Homo sapiens: one gene and its partners. The protein of the gene in region 1 interacts with the protein of each later gene in a pairwise test. Each region holds a gene or a part of one and is shown in the gene's direction. Other genes may lie near its edges.

Region 1 (3,657 bases):
CACAGGGCCTTCTCCCTTTCTCTCTGTATGTCTCTTATAACAACACTTGTCATTGGATTTTGGGCCCACCTAGATAATCTCATCTCAAGATCCTTAACTTAATTATATCTTCAGTGACCCTTTTTCTGAATTAAGGTTACATTTATAATTTCCTGGTATTAGGGCATGAGCATATTTTTTGGGGGGCTACTATTCAATCCACTACAGAAAGCCATTGAAGTGTTTGAACAAGGGAGTGAAATTACCAAAAGAGTATCTTGAGATTAGTTTGGTCACAGGGAGCTTAAAAGATCAAGGAGACAGAGAGTGAAAGAGAGAAAAAGAGACTGAAGGGAAGAAGGCAAAGGAGGCAGAGAGGGAGGAGTGGGAAGGAAAGAGAAAGAGAGAGAAGTAGAGAGAGAGGGGCCACAAGATTAAATGGCAAAAGGCCAGATTTGTGTGGCTGATTGATATCAAAGAAGAGGAAGCAGTTAAAAATGTTCTTAAAGATAAAAGAAAATTAAGAAATAGAAAATAAAAATAAACAGGAATAGCATATTTACTAGAAGGTAACTCTCTTAGAAGACAAATAGTGATCTTAGTTCTGGATATGTTTTATTGAGGATGAAGCAAACAAATGGCAATGCTCAAAACAGCTAACGACGGAGACCAGATGTTTGGGTAATGGTCTTGATAGGAGATATGGAGCTGCAAAATAGTTATACCTGACTTTTTCCCATATTTTCCCCCAACTGCTCTTGTATAGCTTCCTTCTTTCCCTCATACACAGTTTTCTTTTGTTGCTGTTCTTGTGTGTGGGTCTTATGTGTGTGCATGTATTTCCTTGTGGTATAATGCTTCATGAACCACTACCTGGCTACCATCTATGTTTGCTCAAGGCCCTGGGTCTCTACAGTCAGCACGTAGTGAAGCCTGCCAGGCTTGTGTCCTTCCCTCAGGGCAGCAAGTTCCCCCAGTCCCTGGGTTGGTCTAGAGATGCCATCTGGGAGCCAGGGACTATAGCCAAAAACCCTGGAAATCGGCCAGGTGTGGTGGCTCACACCTGTAATCGCAGTACTTTGGGAGGCCAAGGTGGGTGGATTACCTGAGGTCAGGAGTTAGAGACCAGCCTGGCCAACATGGTGAATCCCCTTCTCTACTAAAAATACAAAAATTAGCCAGGCGTGGTGGCACAAGCCTGTAATACCAGCTACTCAGGAGGCTAAGGCAGGAGAATCACTTGAACCTAGGAGGCAGAGGTTGCAGTGAGCCGAGATCACGCCATTGCCCTCCAGCCTGGGCAACAAGAGTGAAACTCTGTCTCAAAAAACAAAAACAAACAAACAAACAAATAAACAAAAAACCTTGGAAATCTACCTGTTGTTCCATTCTACTGTGGCTTAGCAGGCACTCAAACCATGAGACGCAGGCCTTCCCACTCTTCCCCCCACTTTTCACTGGCAGAGGAGCCTCACCTCTGGCCACTATTACTACAAGTCCCCAGGGAGTACTGCTAGCAACTGCTGATGTTCATCTAAGGCCCAAGGGCTCTTCAGTCATCTTGTGGTGAATGCCACCAGGTCTGGGACTCGCCCTTCATGGTAGTGGACTCCCCTCTGACTCAGAGCATGTCCAGAAATGTCATCCAAGAGCTGAGGCCCAGAACTGGGGACCCCTCAGAACCATCCTGGTGCTCTATCCATCTGTGGCCGAGCTAGCATCGAACATACATTGAACATACAGGACAAAGTCTCCTTTACTTTTCCCTCTGTTTTTCTCAAGCAGAAGGAATCTCTCACCATAGTCACCACAACTGCAAATGTGCTAGGTTTCACCTGAAGCCAGCATGTCTTAGGATCTATCTTAGGATCTCATCCAAGTCCCATGGATTACTGCCTGGATATCACTGCTGGTTATTCAGGGCCCAAGATCTCTTAGTCAGCAGGTGATGGATCCTGCCAGGACTAGGTTTTTCCCTTCAAGGCAGTGGGTTCCCTTCTGGCTCAGGGTGTGTCTAACAATGTCATCTGGGAGCTACTTTCTGAATAGGGGCCTCACAACTCTGGTGCCCTGTCCTACTGTGGCTAAGCTGGTATCCAAGATGTAAGACAGAATCCTCTTTACTCTTCCCTCTCCTCTCCTCAAGTGGAAGGAAGGGATCTCTTTTTGGAGCCACGAGCTGTGCTGCCTGGGCTTGTGGGAAGGGTAGTGCAAGGACTCCCGTAGCCACCCCAGCTGTTGCTCACCAGCTTGTGTGCCCTCCAAGTGCATGGCTTCCAATCCCAGCTCATCACTAGGACTTGCTTAGGAGTTGCAGTCCTTGCAGCCTAGACTGCCTTTCATGTCTATTTAGGGCTCAGAGCAGTTTAGTCCGCAGTTGGGAGGCTCGCCAGAACTCGAGTTCCAACTGCTGGGATGGGCGGTTCCCCTCTGGTTAGGGCTGGTCTAAATCCTCCCTCCATGGGTAGGTGTCAGCTGAGTTCAGTTCGGTTTTGCTTTCCACTGTGACAGGGCAGCACTGAGTTCAATGCAAAGTCTCATAGTTACTGTGCTCTCCCTCTCCCAAGTACACAGATTCTTTCTCCTGCTAAGGAACAGGCGAGGGGAGGTACTGACAATGTAAGACTGTCTTTCCTACCTCCTTCAGTGCCTCTTTCAGTGATATGAAGTCCCCAGGGAGTACTGCAGGGACTGCTGATGTTCACTTAAGGCCTAAGGGCTCTCCAGTCATCTTGTGGTGAATGCACCAGGACTGAGACTCACCCTTTATGGTAGTGGGCTCCCTTCTAAAACCAGGTACTGTGAGTGCTCATCTGATTTTGGTTCTTAGAAAGGTGCTTTTTTTTGGTGTAAATGTTAAATTTGGTGTTCCTGCTTGGGGGAGGATAGGTAGAGCCTTCTGTTCAGACATCTTGCTCTGCCCCTCCTAATGTCACATATGGCATTTCTACCTGCAAAGAAACCATTTCCTATCCTTTTCTCTGAGGAGGTCTTGATTGGTTTTAGTTCTAAATTTAGTTAACTACTGCTGCAAATCTTAAAGATGTGGTCATGAATATATTTACAGAGAAATCTCTAAGTACGCTTCTCTCCACCTCCCCATGTCCGTACACATGGGGAAATGTACAAATGTACACATACTTAGATTTTGCTAACCATGCCCGTTCAACTTCATAGCCTTATAGTGCCATAAGCCTTAGCAGTGGTGGAACAAAAATCAAGAGAAAAAAACTCATCATACCTCTTATTGCCTTCCAGTGTTTCTCAAGCTACCTTTTACTCTTGTTTGAATAACTGAACTATATTGACTTCTACAGCATCAGTGGACAGGAATGGTTTTATTCCATCTTACTAGAAATCAAACATTTTTACCAGCAAATTAATTTTTATCCAGGAATAAGATTTTTAAAGCCAGGGCAATAAGCTTACCTTTCTCTTTCCTCCTACCTTTTTCCGAGGGTCCTATTCTGGGTCTTTTTAAAGCAATTTTCTTTCCTGTCTTATTCTCCAATGGTGTTAGAAACTACAGTCATTCATTCGATTAAAATGCTTAAGAACAGTGAATACAGAGAAACTCTTGTTCTGCCAGTTATCAGAGGTGGAATAACACCGGTAAATGACAATGAAAGATTCTTTTGGTTTTTGGATTTGAATGGGGTTGCCCGTTTTGCTCAGTGT
Region 2 (3,657 bases), on another chromosome or scaffold:
TCCAGTTCAAACTCTTCCTTATGAATTAGTTATTCAAACTCATATTGTTGATATTTCTTAATATTGTGGTAACGAACATTTTTTGCCACGTTACACCAAATGTTGAGGGTATGAAGTTTTTTGTACTTAATTTGTGCTTACTTCTTTAGTGTGTAACTAGAGGAATTTTCCATACCAGTAGCTGAACTCTTGAAAATATTTAAAGTACAACTTAAAAAAAAACCAATAAACCTGTTTCTTTCCACTCAAATATTTACTCTTTAATGATTCAAACCCTGTTTTCTTTGAAGTTTTCAGTTATAAATCATACTTAAGTTTAAGATATTTCCCCTTAGAGCCTACAATAGTATTTTTGAGGACAAGTTTCATTTAGAATATTGTTGATTGTTAAATCTTTCGTAAGATGTAGGTGGAAGAATAAAGTTAAATGTTGAGTTAGAGTACTAAATGTTATGCTTTATGCTGTGCCTCTTGTTAAAGAACTTTTAAAGCTTCTGCTAAAGAACTTTAAAATTAGCCTTCATGTATCTTTAAATATGACCAAGGTGGTACAGTTTAAATCTAGTTGTCATTTGAGATGAGAAGTAGAAATGAAGTTTAACGATTAATGATCACTTTATTGAAGACTTTTATCTAAGTGGTGGGAAACACTGCCCGACATTGGTGAACATAATCACTGGGTTCTGGGAAGCATACTGACGTATATTACATGTTCCACCCTTAAAGATCTTAAAATCTTGTTGAGTTGTTAAAACTAGCACATGAAATATCAAATAATGCAAAATCTGTGAACTCACTGTAAGTATAATAGAAGTTTCTCACTGGAAGTGTTGAAGGCTTCCAGAAAGTAAGCTGACCCTAAAGTCTTGTTAGGATGCACACTGGGCAGGGCATTTCCAAGCAAGGAAAAATCCCCAGCAGAGGTAGACAGACTAGGATTTTTTGACTTTACAATGGTACTCACACAACCATTCTGTTTTTCGCTTTCCATACAGTATTCAGTAAATAACATGAGCTAGTCAACACTTTGTTATAAATAGGCTTTGCATTAGATGATTTTGCTTAACTGTAGGCTACTGTAAATGTTGTGAACACGTTTAAGGTAGGCTAAGCTATGATGTTCGGTAGGTTAGGTGTACTGTATTAAATGCCTTTTCAAGTTACAATATTTTCAACTTATGATAGGTTTATTGGGACGTAACCACATTTTAAGTCAAGGAGCATATGTATACAATATAGATAAGGAAAGGTGCACTGCATTTGTGAGTGCATGCACACACACACACAATCTTTGAGAACAGGATAAAGTCATTTGGGCTGTCATAGAGAATTCCTCTAGAAAAATGATACATGATAAGGTCGGAAAACTGGATTGAGTACAGATCATGATTGTCCTTAAATGCCAGGGAAGGATTTTGGCCTTTGAACTAGCCATTAAACATTTCTGAGTAAGGGAGACTCAATGTACCAAGTTATATATCGAAAGAGAAATCTCAAAATTGGATGAATGAATCAACTGGAGGATTGAGAGGGGAAGGCAGTTTGATCTACAGAGGCTATTTCTTCTTTTTTAATTTTTTTTTTTTGAGACACGGTCTCACTCTGTCACCCAGACTGTAGTGCAGTGGCGCGATCACAGCTGACTGCAGCCGCCACTTCCTGGGTTCAAGCAATCCACCCATCTCAGCCTCCAGAGCAGCTAGAACTACAGGTGCACGCCACCATGCCTGGCTAATTTTTATGGTTTTTTTTTTTTTTTTTTGGAGACAATGTTTAGTGGTTGTCCAGGCTGGTTTCCAACTCCTGGACTCAAGCAATCCATCCACATTGGCCTTCCAAAGTGCTAGGATTACAGGCGTGAGCTACTGCGCCTGGCTACAGAGGCTATTTCAATGGGTCAATCATAGTTATACAGATGCAATGGGCCTTCCATGGACAGGTTCCATGGACATATGTTTAGTACTATGAAGAAAAAATTAATTACCAGGCTTAATAATTAGCTAGTTTCAGAAGGAAAAGTTAAAGACTGTGGTGTTTAATAGGAGGGAACTGGGAGACTTATGATACATCTGAAAGAAATTGGAATGTAGTGGGGAAGAGCCAGATCTGGTAGGAAGTTAAGGATTTCTGTTCTAGACTTGTGAATTTTGTGGTAACAATGGGATGACAAAGTACATATGTCCAATAAGTAGTTGAAAATGTAGAACTGAAGCTTTGGTCATTCATCAGATATTTACTGAGCATCTACTCTATGCCGGGCACTTCACTTGAAAATGAAGGACTAGAGACATCAAGGAGGGAGAGGTTCATAATGCCAGAAAGAATATGTGGAAGTGAGGGCCCTCATGAGACAGGAAAAGTAAGGTTGTAAGAAAAGTAAGGGTTGTAAGAAAAGTAAGGGTGTAAGAAAAGTAAGGGTGGCTTTAAGATGTATGAAAGGATGAGAACGTGTGTCAAGTTAGAGAGAGAGTTAACTGGGGTGGGGGATGGGGGGATTCTTTACTTAACAGTCATCCGGAAACCTACATTGGAGAAAGAATTCAGGTTGGTACCAGAGTCCAGTATGTGGAGTTCTTACCTCCCTTACACCTCCCTAAGGGGATAATCAGATTTGCAATTTGAGGTTGAAAGCATTGCTTTGCATTGGTGAACCCGAATTATTGTCCTTGTTATTGAGTAGTTAATGCAGAGGTGTTGAATATGCTAATGATAATGGCAGAAGACCAGCTGGAACAAAATAATCAAAGACTGTTAGCTGAGAGAAGGCGGGGTTAGTTAGAACTTTTGACACTAGGGGAGTAGGGACTGTAGGGAGAATAAACAGGAATTGGGTATGATAGGACATGTGCCTTCAACAGTAATCAGAGTTTAGAAATGGCACTTGAGTACAAAGGTCCGTCATCATGTACTTCTCTTGCTTGAGTCACAGCAAATGAGAGAATATAATTTAGCTGGTACTTAGGAACAATTGAACATTGTGATATTGTATTTTTTATTCTGCTTTTCATATTCAGTGACCTTGAGCAAATCATCTACAAAATGGGGAATAATAAAAGCTGCATTTCCTTTGCCTCAATGAGAGGTTATTAGGATGAATTAACCATCATCTGTGGAGTTGGAGCTCCTTTGTAAAAGGTGTTATGATGTATGGGGGGCAGTTCATCCTGCAAAACAATGCTTGGCTAATCACATGAAAACACTGCCATTATCTCATCTCTCTCCTGCTTGATAACCCACATTTTTCTTTTGAAACCCAATCACCACCCCACACCACCCCAATGAGACACAAAGCCCTCTGCTCAGCTTTCCATACTTTCTGTTATATGGCTCCTCTCTGTAGATCTATACTTAGTTCCCACTACATCCCAACAAGAAATCCCTTTAATTCTACCATGCCAGTCACAGTTCAATAACCAGTGATTGGCCAAATTCTACCTGATTTTCAAGGTCCTCCATCTTAGCTTCTTCATGAACTCTCTCTGAATGTCCCAGGCTATAGAAATCTCTTCTATTTCCAAGCACCTATTCTGTCTATTGTCAGTAGTAGACAGTCTTGTCCTTAATGTATTATACTGCCTTAGATTTTCTCTAATTATATATGTTATACTTGCCTCCCAAATGAGGTTGTACATTTCTTGAAGGTGGGGACCATGTATT
Region 3 (2,714 bases), on another chromosome or scaffold:
TACTCAGGAGGCTGAGGCGGGAGAATCGCTTGAGCCCAGGAGGTTGAGGCTGCAGTGAGCCAAGATCATGTCACTGCACTCCAGCCTGTGTAACAGAGCAAGACTTTGTCTCAAAAAAGTAAATAAATAGGGCCGGGCACGTTGGCTCATGCCTGTAATTCCAGCACTTTGGGAGGCTGAGGTGGGAGGATCACGAGGTCAGGAGATCGAGACCATCCTGGCTAACACGGTGAAACCCCATCTCTACTAAAAATACAAAAAATTAGCCAGGCGTGGTGGCGGGCACCTGTAGTCCCAGCTACTTGGGAGACTGAGGCAGGAGAATGGCGTGAAAGCCGGGAGGCGGAACTTGCAGTGAGCTGAGATGACACCACTGCACTCCAGCCTGGGCAAACAGAGCGAGACCCTGTCTCAAAACATAAATAAATAAATAAATAAATAAATGTAATGACTAAAGGAATAAAAGTAGAATGTATAATTTCTAAACCAGAAGAAGATAAGCAGGAAATCAAGAAAAGTCTGTAGATCCAAAGGAGGAAGGGAGAAAACATATACACACACACACACTCTCACACACACAAACACACACATAGAACATTTTCAAAACTTGACCATGTACTCAGTCATAAAGCAGGTCTCAACAAATTCCAAAGAACATATATTCTATAGACCATGTTCACCAACCATGATATAATTAAACTAAACACTTTTTAAAAAAGGATAACTATGCCAGGTGCGGTGGCTCACACCTATAATCCCAGTGCTTTAGGAGGCCAAGATGGGAGGATCACTTGAGCCCAGGAGTTTTGAGAACAGGCTGGGTAACATAATAAAACACTGTCTCTACAAATTTTTCTATTTTTTTATATTTTATTTTATTTTATTTTATTTTATTTTTGAGACGGAGTCTGACTCTATCATCCAGGCTGGAGTGCAGTGGTGTGATCTCGGTTCACTGCAACCTCCATCCCCTGGGTTCAAGTGATTCTCCTGTCTCAGCCTGTAGCTGGAACTACAGGCACCTGCCACCATGCCCAGCTAATTTTGTATTTTTAGTAGAGATGGAGTTGGCCAGGCTGGTCTCGAATTCCTGACCTCAGGTGATCCTCCTCCTTGGTCTCCCAAAGTGCTGGGATTACAGGCACAAGCCACCATACCTGGCCAAAAAAATTTTTTTAATTAGCTTGGCATAATGGGGCACACCTGTAACCCCAGGGGCTTGAGAGGCTGAGGCAGGAGGATAGCTTGAGGTCAGGAGTTCGAGGCTTCAGTGAACTATGATTGTGCCACTGCGCTCCAGCCTGGGCACTCTGTCTCTAAAAGAAAAAAAAAATGAAAAGGCTAACTAAACCCATGTCAGACTAGGTGGGAGGAAGGGCGGGTAAAGGGAGAGACACATAGTGACTGGTGGGAACCTCATGGGCTGAGAGCCAGAATCCTCCCTTTTCCCATCGCCCAGGATGAGAGGACTGAGGCATCAGCTGCAACCTGGACTCAAGGCCCCCTGAAGTCCTTCTGTCCCCAAAGACCTGTGACCTCTGGGATTCCACTCTTCGGAGTTGCAGTTAACTGGGGTATCAGCTGAATCAACGAGGAGGATTCTAGAGTGAACTTCCACACCATACCCCAGGCCCCTAAGCCCACTCCTCCTTGTTTAGCCATCTGTCCTCAGGATGGATGTCCCTTGCTTCCACAGGGAGGCCACGTATCAGGGAAATTGCAGGTCTGCAGGGGCAGATGTTGGCAGCTCTTGCCCTTGCCTGTTCCCCCACCTTAGCAGAGCCAACCCTCACTACTCCCCAGCCTTCCCCGACTCTGCTCTGTTCAACCCTGCAGGGGCCAAGTTCCCCATCAAGTGGACAGCTCCTGAAGCCATCAACTTTGGCTCCTTCACCATCAAGTCAGACGTCTGGTCCTTTGGTATCCTGCTGATGGAGATCGTCACCTACGGCCGGATCCCTTACCCAGGTAGGGAAGGGGCATCAGCTCAGGGCTGCTACCAGGGCCCAGTCTGGCAATGGGCTCATCTCAACAACATGTCCATTCAAACTGAGTTCTTGATCCTCACCCCCAACCTTCCCTCACCTTTCCTGTCTTAGTTAAAGGCACCTCCATCCATCTAATGTCTTAAGCCTGAAATCTGGGGGCTTCCTTGGCCCTTCCTTCTCTCTCACTCCTATGACTTTTTTTTTTTTTTTTTTTTTTTTTGAGACGGAGTCTCCCTCTGTCACCCAGGCTGGAGTGCAGTGACGTGATCTCGGCTCACTGCAACCTCCGCCTCCCAGGTTCAAGCGATTCTCCTGCCTCAGCCTCCTGAGTAACTGGGATTACAAGCATCCACCACCATGCCTGGCTAATTTTTGTATTTTTAGTAGAGACGGGGTTTCACCATGTTGGCCAGGCTGGTCTCGAACTGCTGACCTTAGGTGATGCGCCTGCCTCGGCCTCCCAAAGTGCTGGGATTACAGGCGTGAGCCACTGTGCCTGGCCTCACCCCTATGACATCTGAGCAGTCACAGGGTTTTGGCCACTCGACTCCAAAACATATCCCAAGTCTCACCACTTTGAACCCCACAGTCTCCACTGCATCCAGGCCAGCGTCATCTCCCATAGATGGTGCAGCGGCATCCTCATCAGTCTTACTGCTTTCTCCCTCCTCGTCCTACAGCCTATTCTCCACTTGCAGCCAGAAGGATAATTCTAAACTTTAAATC

The links.
Region 2: the proteins of GRB14 (region 1) and STK26 interact in a two-hybrid assay, tested with the Homo sapiens proteins (one large-scale study listed by BioGRID and IntAct).
Region 3: the proteins of GRB14 (region 1) and HCK interact in a two-hybrid assay, tested with the Homo sapiens proteins (one large-scale study listed by BioGRID and IntAct).

What each region holds. Positions count from the first base shown.
Region 1 is NC_000002.12:164,509,830-164,513,486, reverse strand, and holds part of GRB14 (growth factor receptor-bound protein 14), read left to right. Parts: intron 1-3,657. UniProt on the Homo sapiens protein: Adapter protein which modulates coupling of cell surface receptor kinases with specific signaling pathways. Binds to, and suppresses signals from, the activated insulin receptor (INSR). Potent inhibitor of insulin-stimulated MAPK3 phosphorylation.
Region 2 is NC_000023.11:132,026,288-132,029,944, forward strand, and holds part of STK26 (serine/threonine-protein kinase 26), read left to right. Parts: intron 1-3,657. UniProt on the Homo sapiens protein: Serine/threonine-protein kinase that acts as a mediator of cell growth. Modulates apoptosis. In association with STK24 negatively regulates Golgi reorientation in polarized cell migration upon RHO activation.
Region 3 is NC_000020.11:32,097,168-32,099,881, forward strand, and holds part of HCK (tyrosine-protein kinase HCK), read left to right. Parts: intron 1-1,836; coding exon 1,837-1,968; intron 1,969-2,714. UniProt on the Homo sapiens protein: Non-receptor tyrosine-protein kinase found in hematopoietic cells that transmits signals from cell surface receptors and plays an important role in the regulation of innate immune responses, including neutrophil, monocyte, macrophage and mast cell functions, phagocytosis, cell survival and proliferation, cell adhesion and migration.